2 linked regions of the Homo sapiens genome follow. The protein of the gene in region 1 interacts with the protein of each later gene in a biochemical or structural test. Each region holds a gene or a part of one and is shown on either strand. Other genes may lie near its edges.

Region 1 (7,298 bases):
CTAGGATGAAAACTCAGTAGTTGGAGCACTTGAGTGAGTGTGAGCTTTCTGCTTTTTAAGGCAGGCAGCGGTACTGGTCAGTGGGACCCTGTTGTGTGTAGACACCAACTGTGAATAAGAGAAGGCTTATAAAGGCTTCTGTCTCCCCAGTTGTGCTTCTCTCCAGAGTTGTAAATTTTCCAGCTTTTACTCAAGTCTCTCACTTTGTAGCCTTTTTTCACAAAGAAATAGTTTGTATCAGTTCACTAGAGTCCTTAAGAGTTTATAAGTCTTGATCAATTAAACCAATTGGCTGCATTCCTGATTTTGCAGCTTAGTATTGAATATTGATGAATCAATTCCTCACCCTTTTCCAAACACAGCTGTTAAAGATGCAACAGGTGGCCGGGCATGGTGGCTCACACTTGTAATCCCAGCACTTTGGGAGGCCGAGGTGGGTGGATCATTTGAGGTCAGGAGTTTGAGACCAGCCTGGCCAACATGGTGAAACTCTGTCTCTACTAAAAATACAAAAATAAATAAATAAATAAATAAATAAATGCGCAGGGCGAAAAGCAACAAGTTCTCTCATCAGCTCAGTGTCTTAGTTTCTGCCACCCAAACTGGACCTCAACAAAATCACATACCTTGACAAAAGATGGACATTTGGGTCTTCAGTCGGTGTTGAAACTACACATAGTAAGTCTGAGAAGTCCTCATTTGCCACACTCTGAGGCCCTTCCTGAGATGTGGTTGTTCTTTGGCTGCATCTCTTTTCAAGAGTTGGGCAATGATAGTAGCTGGTGCTTACTGAGCCCTGGGGACTTGCCCAGCCCTGTGTTAAGTGTTTTCTCCACCCGACATCTTCTAAGGGTTGTCCTAGTGCATTCATTAAACTACTGAGGTCAAGGAAAGCGTTAACTAGACAAGGCTTCTTTCTGCCCTATGATATTGGTAGAAATGGTAGGGCATGCCTAATCTCCTTATGTTATTATCCTCTTGAGAAACAAACATTTGTCAGAGTCCTTTCATGTGTTTTATTTTCACAGTGCATAGACTTGGGTTGGCAGCAGGATATGGTGGAGAGAGCGAGTCTTCTGAGTTAAATCCTGGCATTCTTGCAGCCTCACAGAGGGACCTTGACCAGATCACATAGTATCTCTTTGTTTCCTCATCTGGGGAAGGGGGATGGTTAACACTGACCTCCCTCCCACACCCAGGTGAACATGAATGGCAGTTGGTGAGGTTGGATCTGTGCCCGAGTTTCTCCACTCACCTTGTCTTCTTGCAGTTTAATGTGTGGCATGTGCCTTTTTGCTCTCCAGGAGAAGGAGAAAGCACATGAAGGAGCAAGACCCATGAGAGCCATCTTCCTGGCCGATGGCAATGTCTTCACCACTGGGTTCAGCCGCATGAGCGAGCGGCAGCTGGCTCTCTGGAATCCGGTACGCCCTCCCCAGGCTTTCCACTTGCTTTCACTTGAGCTTTCTCTCTGTTCTGAGCAGGTCTTCCAGTGAGTAAGTAGATTATGGGATTCTTAGTGTAGTTTTCTAAACGCCTGATTGTCTTAGATTGGATGTGAAGTTCTTATCCTCGTTGGAGACTTACTGGTAAATGTATTTCAAAGACATACTTTTGATACTCCTGAAGAGGCTGTTGACTATATATTTTTTATTTTTTTAATTTTTTTTAATTTTAATTTTATTGGTCATTTTTGGGTGTTTCTTGCAGAGGGGGATTTGGCAGGGTCATAGGACAATAGTGGAGGGAAGGTCAGCAGTTAAACAAGTGAACAAAGGTCTCTGGTTTTCCTAGGGAGAGGACCCTGCGGCCTTCCGCAGTGTTTGTGTCCCTGGGTACTTGAGATTAGGGAGCGGTGATGACTCTTAACGAGCATGCTGCCTTCAAGCATCTGTTCAACAAAGCACATCTTGCACCGCCCTTAATCCATTTAACCCTGAGTGGACACAGCACATGTTTCAGAGAGCACAGGGTTGGGGGTAAGGTCATAGATCAACAACATCCCAAGGCAGAAGAATTTTTCTTAGTACACAGCAAAATGAAGTCTCCCATGTCTACTTCCTTCTACACAGACACAGCAACAATCTGATTTCTCTATCCTTTCCCCACCTTTTCCCCTTTTCTATTCCACAAAACCGCCATCGTCATCATGGCCCGTTCTCAATGAGCTGTTGGGTACACCTCCCAGACAGGATGGTGGCCGGGCAGAGGGGCTCCTCAATTCCCAGAAGGGGCGGCAGGGCAGAGGCGCCCCCCACCTCCCGGATGGGGTGGTGGCCGGGTGGAGGCTGACCCCCCACCTCCCTCCCGGATGGGGCTGCTGGCCGGGCGGGGGCTGCCCCCCCACCTCCCTCCCGGACGGGGCGGCTGGCCGGGTGGGGGCTGACCCCCCACCTCCCTCCCGGACGGGGCGGCTGGCCGGGCGGGGGCTGAGCCCCCACCTCCCTCCCGGACGGGGTGGCTGCCGGGCAGAGACGCTCCTCACTTCCCAGACGGGGTGGCTGCCGGGCGGAGGGGCTCCTCACTTCTCAGACGGGGCGGCTGCCGGGCGGAGGGGCTCCTCACTTCTCAGACGGGGCGGCTGCCGGGTGGAGGGGCTCCTCACTTCTCAGACGGGGCGGCTGCCGGGCAGAGGGGCTCCTCACTTCTCAGACGGGTCGGCCAGGCAGAGACGCTCCTAACCTCCCAGACGGGGTCCCGGCCGGGCAGAGGCGCTCCTCACATCCCAGACGGGGCGGCGGAGCAGAGGCGCTCCCCACATCTCAGACGATGGGCGGCCGGGCAGAGACGCTCCTCACTTCCTAGACGGGATGGCGGCCGGGAAGAGGCGCTCCTCACTTCCCAGACTGGGCAGCCGGGCAGAGGGGCTCCTCACATCCCAGACGATGGGCGGCCAGGCAGAGATGCCCCTCACCTCCCAGACAGGGTGGTGGCCGGGCAGAGGCTGCAATCTGGGCACTTTGGGAGGCCAAGGCAGGCGGCTGGGAGGTGGAGGTTGTAGCTAGCCGAGATCACACCACTGCACTCCAGCCCGGGCAACATTGAGCACTGAGTGAACGAGACTCCGTTTGCAATCCCGGCACCTCGGGAGGCCGAGGCTGGCGGATTACTCGTGGTCAGGAGCTGGAGACCAGCCCCGCCAACACAGCGAAACCCCGTCTCCACCAAAAAAATACGAAAACCAGTCAGGCGTGGCGGTGCGCGCTTGCAATCGCAGGCACTCAGCAGGCTGAGGCAGGAGAATCAGGCAGGGAGGTTGCAGTGAGTCGAGATGGCAGCGTCCAGCTTCGGCTCGGCATCAGAGGGAGAGCGTGGAAAGAGAGGGAGAGGGAGACCGTGGGGAGAGGGAGAGGGGGAGGGGGAGGGGGAAGGGGAGAGGGAGGGGACTATATTTTTTAAAAAGAATGAAGAATCTAGTGTTTTGGATTTGGAAAATAAGTTCATATTTCATAAATAATATGATCAGTTGTCTAAATCAAAATAGTCATGCTTGGGAAAATGTTCATAATTAGCTTAAGTGGGGAAAAATACAACATACATTCTATCATCTCAATCTCTGTGTACATGTGTCGGAAGGAAATAGATCAAAATGATAATAGCTTCTGTCACCCACTGGGCTGTAGGATTTTGATGGAATGATTTTTATGTTCTTTTTTATATCTTTCAACTTTTTAAAAGCACACATATTTTATAATTAAAGAAGTACTTTAAAAAAATAAAATAGGGTAGGCGCAGTGGCCATTCCTGTAATCCCAGCACTTTGGGAGGCTGAGGTGGCTGGATCACTTGAGGCTGGGAGTTGGAGACCAGCCTGGCCAACATGGTGAAACTCTGTGTCTACTAAAAATACAAAAATTAGCCACGGGTGGTGGCATGTGCCTATCTATAATCCCAGCTCTTGCCAGGCTGAGGCAGGAAAATCGCTTGAACTTGGGAGGCGGAGATTGCAGTGAGCCGAGATAGCACTACTGCACTCCAGCCTGGGCGACAGAGGGAGACTCAGTCTTTAAAAAAAAAAAAAAGAAAAAGAAAACAGTAACAAAGGAGAAGGGCTTTCTCATCATTGTCATGAAATCACGCTGATGTATGCGCGCATTATGTTGTCAAATCAGTGAAATTTTGTGAGTTGGATCTCATTTAGCATCCCTGTTGCTGTTTCCATGTATGAGTATTGTATGTGCATAGTTCAAACTTCTGTTATTCTAGGAAAATGGCTCGCTTAATTGGGATAGAAGAATATATAATAAGGTTATAAAAATTTATTTTTAAAAAAATGTATACATACACATATATGTATTATTATTATCTTCCCCCCAGAAAAATATGCAGGAACCAATTGCTCTTCATGAGATGGACACTAGCAATGGGGTGTTGCTGCCTTTCTATGACCCTGACACCAGCATCATTTACTTATGTGGAAAGGTAAACAGTAATTTTGATGTTTGGTGTTAAATCCTGTAAGTGGAAACATTTATCCTTCAGAGATTTAGAGGACGGGCAATGTGTTGTATCTGTTTAATTTTTCTAATTTGTGTGTGTATGTTATAAGCCAAGGACAGATAATTTGGTATTTTTAGGTCTTGAGACTGGACTGTGTGCAGCTTGCCAGTTGTGCAGTGATAACACGCCATGTTGCATACTTTTGACTGAAGCAGAGGTTGGGCTGGGGTATTGGGGAAAATGCTCCAATCAGGGCGCTCTTGTGAAAAAAAGAAGATACACTGGTGTTTCATCTTCACCTAGCAGTGCTACCTGATTGGTGATTTTAGATTTATCTGTACTTATGTCAGGGATGGGCAACCAGTTGGCCACATCTAATGCTGAAATTTGTTGGATAACCCTAGATGAGCATGTGTATACTTAGTACCACACACCATGGACTTGGAAGGAGAATGGTGCTTTGTGGATGCAAACTTTTGAGGGCCTCAGAGACTCTCCAGAGGGTTCTTGTTCCTGGGGTTCAGTGCTAGGGCTCTGGGCTTGAAGATATGAGGCCTGACTAAAGCTCAGGGGTGATAACAGTTATAGGGAGACTCCACACTGAACTCCAAAAACCTTCCTCCTGCCTTATGAGCTCAGCATACCTAGACTGTGGGTAGCTTTATTATTTCATTTTTGTAAGTGGGAACCTTATAGTTCCCTTTTTTTTCTTGTAGGCTCAATTTCCCTTAGAACTTTTTGTAGTTGAAATAAATGAATTAATAACAGTGGAGCTGTTGAGGTAGTCCCTAGACCTGTTAGATAGCCCTTCACTGGGTGGTAAAGCTGGTGTTTGCTTTTCATAGCTGATTGAGCATGCTGCAGACCTGCTTTACATTTTTATAGGTCATTGTTTTAGAAATGGAGATCTTGTCTGTTTCCTTGAAAGCCATTTTACTGCAGATGTTAACAGGTGTTAAGTGCATTTACCTTGCTGTTGTTGCCCTTGACTGAATTAAAACAAACAAAATGAGCAGTTACTCAGATATTAGTAACATGAGATGGAAAATTCTTTTGGGCATGCAGAAATGACTAGTAAGGGTTTAGCTTCTTTTCCATTGCTTTAGATATCTCAGTCATTGAGACAAATGGAAATCATGAGAACTGGGAGCACTGTTGAGGCATGATACCACCTAGCTATTTTTGCCTTCTTCTTTCTTACATATATGTATATCTCCTCTCTGCCAGACAAGATTGCCGTCATTGTTCAGGTTGGTGTAACTGTGTGACAATTATTTGTACTTAGACTAACATATGCTTCAGTACTCAAAGATATCTGACTATTCTAAGCAAGAAAGTAGTAGAATTGTACACATTGCCATGAGATGGCACTTTCTGAGGATACTCACTAAAACTGAGTTTCTTCATTAGAAAAATCTCACTTTTTATCATCATACTGGCATAACAGCATTGCGTTATGCCAGTAAATGAATACTTAAATCAATAATTGCATTCTCAGCAGTCCTCTTAGTCTTTGTTTGTTTGTTTGTTTTTCACAGTTGAATTGCAATGTAGCTGTTTGGCAGAGGCATTAACATTTTTGCCCTAACCCTGGCCTGGTGCCTAGGCTCAGGGGAGTAAAATTAGAGCCAGGAGCCAGGAGGCTGAGGAGACCACTTAAAAGGCATGCTAGCATTTGATAAGTAAGGGGTTACTTTGTGAGGAAAAGAAACTTTTATATGCTTTAGGCAAGCCTCTTTATGAGGAAGAAAAGGTCAGCTACTGAAGCGGGGTCCCAACTACTGCTGGGTTTGTAGAGGAGAGAGACACCCCCATAATCCAGATGTTTCAGTTAACAATCAGACACAGACTTGTCTCTGGTTTCTTACAGGGTGACAGCAGTATTCGCTATTTTGAGATCACGGATGAATCCCCGTACGTCCACTACCTCAACACATTCAGCAGCAAGGAGCCTCAGAGAGGGATGGGTTACATGCCCAAGAGGGGACTTGATGTTAACAAATGTGAGATTGCCAGGTAAAGAATCGAGATTGTCAAGTATTCTAGGTTGGTGTAACTGTGTGACAATTATTTGTACTTGGACTAGCATATACTTCAGATCTCAAAAATATCTGACCATTCTGAGCAAGAAAGTAGTAGAATTGTACACATTGCCATGAGATGGCACTTTCTAAGGATATCACTAAAACTGAGTTTCTTCATTAGAAAAAAATCTCAAAAAAAAAAAAAAAAGAAAAGAAAAAAATCTCACTTTTTTTTTTTTGAGACGGAGTCTGGCTCTGTTGCCCAGGCAGGAGTGCAGTGGTGTGATCTCAGCTCACTGCAACCTCCGCCTCCCTGGTTCAAGCAATTCTCCTGCCTTAGCCTTCCAAGTAGCTGGGATTACAGGCGCCCACCACCACACCCGGCACATCTCACTTTTTATCATCACCTGAATGCCTGGTGATACCAGAGCAATACAGCTACAAGAAATTCTATGAAGCCCAAGTCTTTCTATCCTTGTGTGTACTGTGGAATTAATACCTCATTTCCTGCCCATATAACTGAAGTGCAACAATGAAGCAGCATAGCTGGGGTGTATTGCACACCTACTGAAATAGTGAAACATGCATCTTTAATCTTCAAGCTGAGGCCATGGTCAGCGTTCCCTGGTGGGCAAGTAGGGAGAGCCTGGCTCGGGGATGGAAAAGTGGGTGGTTTTCCTACCCTATGAGTGGAAGAACCAGAGTCAAAACTGTATTTGGGGCCCCACTGGTCCTAAAATAGAGAAACCAAAGGTCCTATAATGGGGCGGTAGGTTAGCTTGATTTAGGAAGTTCAGCTATGATATAATTTCTACCTCTCTGTACTACTTCTGA
Region 2 (3,643 bases), on another chromosome or scaffold:
ATAAGGGCTTCCTAGCTCTGAGGATGTGGAATTGTACAGAACTGAGGAGCTCCTGGATGGAAGAGGCAGAGGCAGGACACACCACTGAGCCCTGCAGTTCCCAGGTCTAGCAGACCAGGCCCTTTCAAACTCTATTATCGCACCTCCTTCCTAAGCACCTGCCCTCTGTGTGTCTAGCCCGCTGCTAGGCATGGAGGTACAGCAGGGGAAATGAGGAAACATGTTCCCTGCCTTCAGGGAGGTCAAGTCTAACTGAGGGTGGGGAGAAATGACAAAAAATAGTCTAAGAAAAGTTATCAATGGTGCCCAGGTCCTACAGGAGAAGGCACAAGCTCCTTTGCCTGGTGTTGAAAGCTCTTTGTGACCAGAACACTGCTGCCCTCTCTAGCTTTGTCAATATCAGTTCCCAGCCCCTCACTTTCCCAAGAACTGAACTCAGCTACCTGTGGTTGCAGAAGGTATGCTGCCAGGCTGTGTCTCCCTGCCTCTGCACAGGATAGTGGCAATGACAGGAAGCCCTTCCCCCAACCTGTTTGGTAGGCAGACTCCCACTCATCCCTTCAAGGCCCAATGCAAGCACAGTCTTCTCTGAGACACCTTCTTTGCCCCACACTCCTTCCATAGATGGAAATAATTGTATGTTCCTTTGTTCTTATACTGCACTTTGTATAGAACCACACAATAGTGTAATTTTTCCCTACTTATCCATCTACCCTACTCATTTCTAAGCTCCTTGGGAGCAGAGATCCTGTCATTTTTATATCTGTATTCCTGGTACTAGATCACAGCAGTCACTCAGTGAGTAAATGATTGAGCGACTGAGGTTCTAAAAGAGGCATGGGCTAGCTAGGTGGTCAGAGATGGCTTTGAGGTGGCACTGAAAGGGTCTTTGAAAGGTGAAAAGGAATCTACGGCCATACCACCCTGAACGCGCCCGATCTCGTCTGAAAGGTGAAAAGGAGCTTCATAGGTAAAAAGGGGGAAATTTCCTATGGGGAAGGTAAAAGACTCACCAATCTAGAGCAGGAGCCTGGCCTGTGCAGATACTGGGAAGGGCTGGAAAGGGGAAGGGACCTATTATTTATTGAATATCTTCTGTGGGACCACAACTGTGCTGGGAACTTTATAGACAATCTCTCATTTAATCTGACAACTTTATAATTTTCATCTTCCAGCTGAGAGGTTATACAACTTCCTTAAGATCATTCAGCTAGTAAATGACAGAAAAGAAAGGGGGATCCCACACAGACTTTGACTTTAAAGACCACATTCTTCTCTCTGTACCATGCTAAACGAAAAGGCCTTCACCAGATCCCACAACTCTGCCTCGTACAAACATAATCTGCTTATCTTTTTGCTAGAAAGATTATAGTAGTTTTATTTATTGGTCCCTTCACTGAGCCCCATGCCACCACTGCCACCAAAGTCATTGGGGAGGCTGCAATTCTGGGCTTTTCAAGGACCTGGGCCCCTGGGGCTCCAGGAGAAGAATCCTGATGCTTGACTCTCCTCCATCTCCCCTTGAAGGTCAGGTCCTCAGTGATGGAAAAGTCTTCATCCATCTGTGCAACTACATCGAGCCCTGGGAGGACCTGTCCTTGGTGCAGAGGGAAAGTCTGAATCATCACTACCATCTGAACTGTGGCTGCCAAGTAAGGGAATGTCCATTTCCAAAGTCTTTAGGGATGGGGGAAGGGTTCTGAGCCTTCATTCATGCATGAATTTATTCACTTACTAGACTATACTTGAGATCTGCACTGTATGAAGTTGGGGATGAGAAAGCAATACAGTCTATAGGCCCTGATCTCAAAGTACTTACACTTTGGCTGGGAAGGTGGCCATCACAGGAGGCAGACTGAGATAACTGTAACACAGCTACCCTTTAAAGAGAGTCTATTCTTTGCCAGCCACTGTAATAGTAAATTTACTGTAAATGTTTAATTTAGTCTCCAAAACATATTTATGAAGAATTAAGATTTCCATTTTAAGGTGAAGAAATGAAAGCTCTGGCAAGTGAAGTGCTCAAGGTCAGTGGTAGAGTAAGGACCCTCAGAGCTGTCTGACTCCAGAGATGCCACTAAGTGGCAATATTGAATATGGGGAACCTTGGGGAAGGAGAATCCAGGAGAAGACTGGGGACTGGGAAAGGCTTGATAAGATAGGGGGCATTTGAGATGGGCTGGAAAGGTACGTAGGAATCTGAAAGGCAGCAATGGAAAAAGAAGGACACCCTACTCACTTTAATGTTGTGTGGCCATGACTCTAGATCACCACCTGCTACACAGTACCCTGTACCATCTCGGCCCCTAACGAGTGCCTCTGGACAGACTGGCTGTTGGAACGAAAGCTCTATGGTTACCAGGCTCAGCATTATGTCTGTATGAAGCATGTTGACGGCACCTGCAGCTGGTACCGGGGCCACCTGCCTCTCAGGAAGGAGTTTGTTGACATCGTTCAGCCCTAGTAGGGACCAGTGACCATCACATCCCTTCAAGAGTCCTGAAGATCAAGCCAGTTCTCCTTCCCTGCAGAGCTTTGGCCATTACCACCTGACCTCTTGCTGCCAGCTAATAAGAAGTGCCAAGTGGACAGTCTGGCCACTGTCAAGGCAGGGAAGGGGCCATGACTTTTCTGCCCTGCCCTCAGCCTGTTGCCCCTGCCTCCCAAACCCCATTAGTCTAGCCTTGTAGCTGTTACTGCAAGTGTTTCTTCTGGCTTAGTCTGTTTTCTAAAGCCAGGACTATTCCCTTTCCTCCCCAGGAATATGTGTTTTCCTTTGTCTTAATCGATCTGGTAGGGGAGAAATGGCGAATGTCATACACATGAGATGGTATATCCTTGCGATGTACAGTATCAGAAGGTGGTTTGACAGCATCATAAACAGGCTGACTGGCAGGAATGAAAACAAGAACATACTGTGGCTGTGTATCCTCTACTTCCCCTGTCTCAACTCATCCTAATCCTCTGATACACTTTCATCTGTTTGGGGGAGTCATTTGGGAGACACAGAATCACTCAATGTGAGAGCCAGAATGGACTAACCTGCCTTCCAATGCTGTTATCCCCTCTATACCATTTCTGGCAGAGGGTCCCACCTGGTTAGCACACCTCTTTGAATAAGAATGCACTTACTGTCTCAGAATAGGTACTACCTCTCCAAGTTAACTATCCTTAATGCCCTCAACTGATGTCCATAAGGCTTCTCTTCTGTCTCTTTTAAATTACTAACATCTTCATTCCTATTTCAGAACTTTTTAAAAGCCACAAAGCCTTTTTCTTACAGAGCTGAAATCCCCCTTTGTTGGCTTTTTACACCACAGAGAGGTGGTCCTCTCTTGAGGGCAAATTTCAGGATAGAGCACCGGAGAGAAATAACACAAAGGCCCTTGAGGGAAAAGCACGGTAGGTAGGGAATATACCTGGCAATTAAGGCAGTTTTTTTCCAGCAGCCAGCCCTGCTAGATGCTACAGCAGGAAAAAGCCAGTTTTGATCCCCAGAGAGCCCCCTGTACCCTTCAGCTGAGTACTCTCACCATTGTGCCTTGGGCTCCCTGAGATTCCCCAACCAAAGGACCCTCAGGGCTCCTCAGCCTCTGCAAGGCTTCCTGGCTTGCCCTGAAAGGAAAAGTCCTGATATTGGCCT

What was found.
Region 2: the proteins of CORO1C (region 1) and TIMP4 form a complex in vitro, tested with the Homo sapiens proteins (one study listed by BioGRID).

What each region holds. Positions count from the first base shown.
Region 1 is NC_000012.12:108,651,430-108,658,727, reverse strand, and holds part of CORO1C (coronin-1C), read left to right. Parts: intron 1-1,304; coding exon 1,305-1,424; intron 1,425-4,317; coding exon 4,318-4,422; intron 4,423-6,310; coding exon 6,311-6,456; intron 6,457-7,298. UniProt on the Homo sapiens protein: Plays a role in directed cell migration by regulating the activation and subcellular location of RAC1. Increases the presence of activated RAC1 at the leading edge of migrating cells.
Region 2 is NC_000003.12:12,152,336-12,155,978, reverse strand, and holds the end of TIMP4 (metalloproteinase inhibitor 4 precursor), read left to right. Parts: intron 1-1,527; coding exon 1,528-1,652; intron 1,653-2,266; coding exon 2,267-2,464; 3' UTR 2,465-2,911; downstream 2,912-3,643. UniProt on the Homo sapiens protein: Complexes with metalloproteinases (such as collagenases) and irreversibly inactivates them by binding to their catalytic zinc cofactor. Known to act on MMP-1, MMP-2, MMP-3, MMP-7 and MMP-9.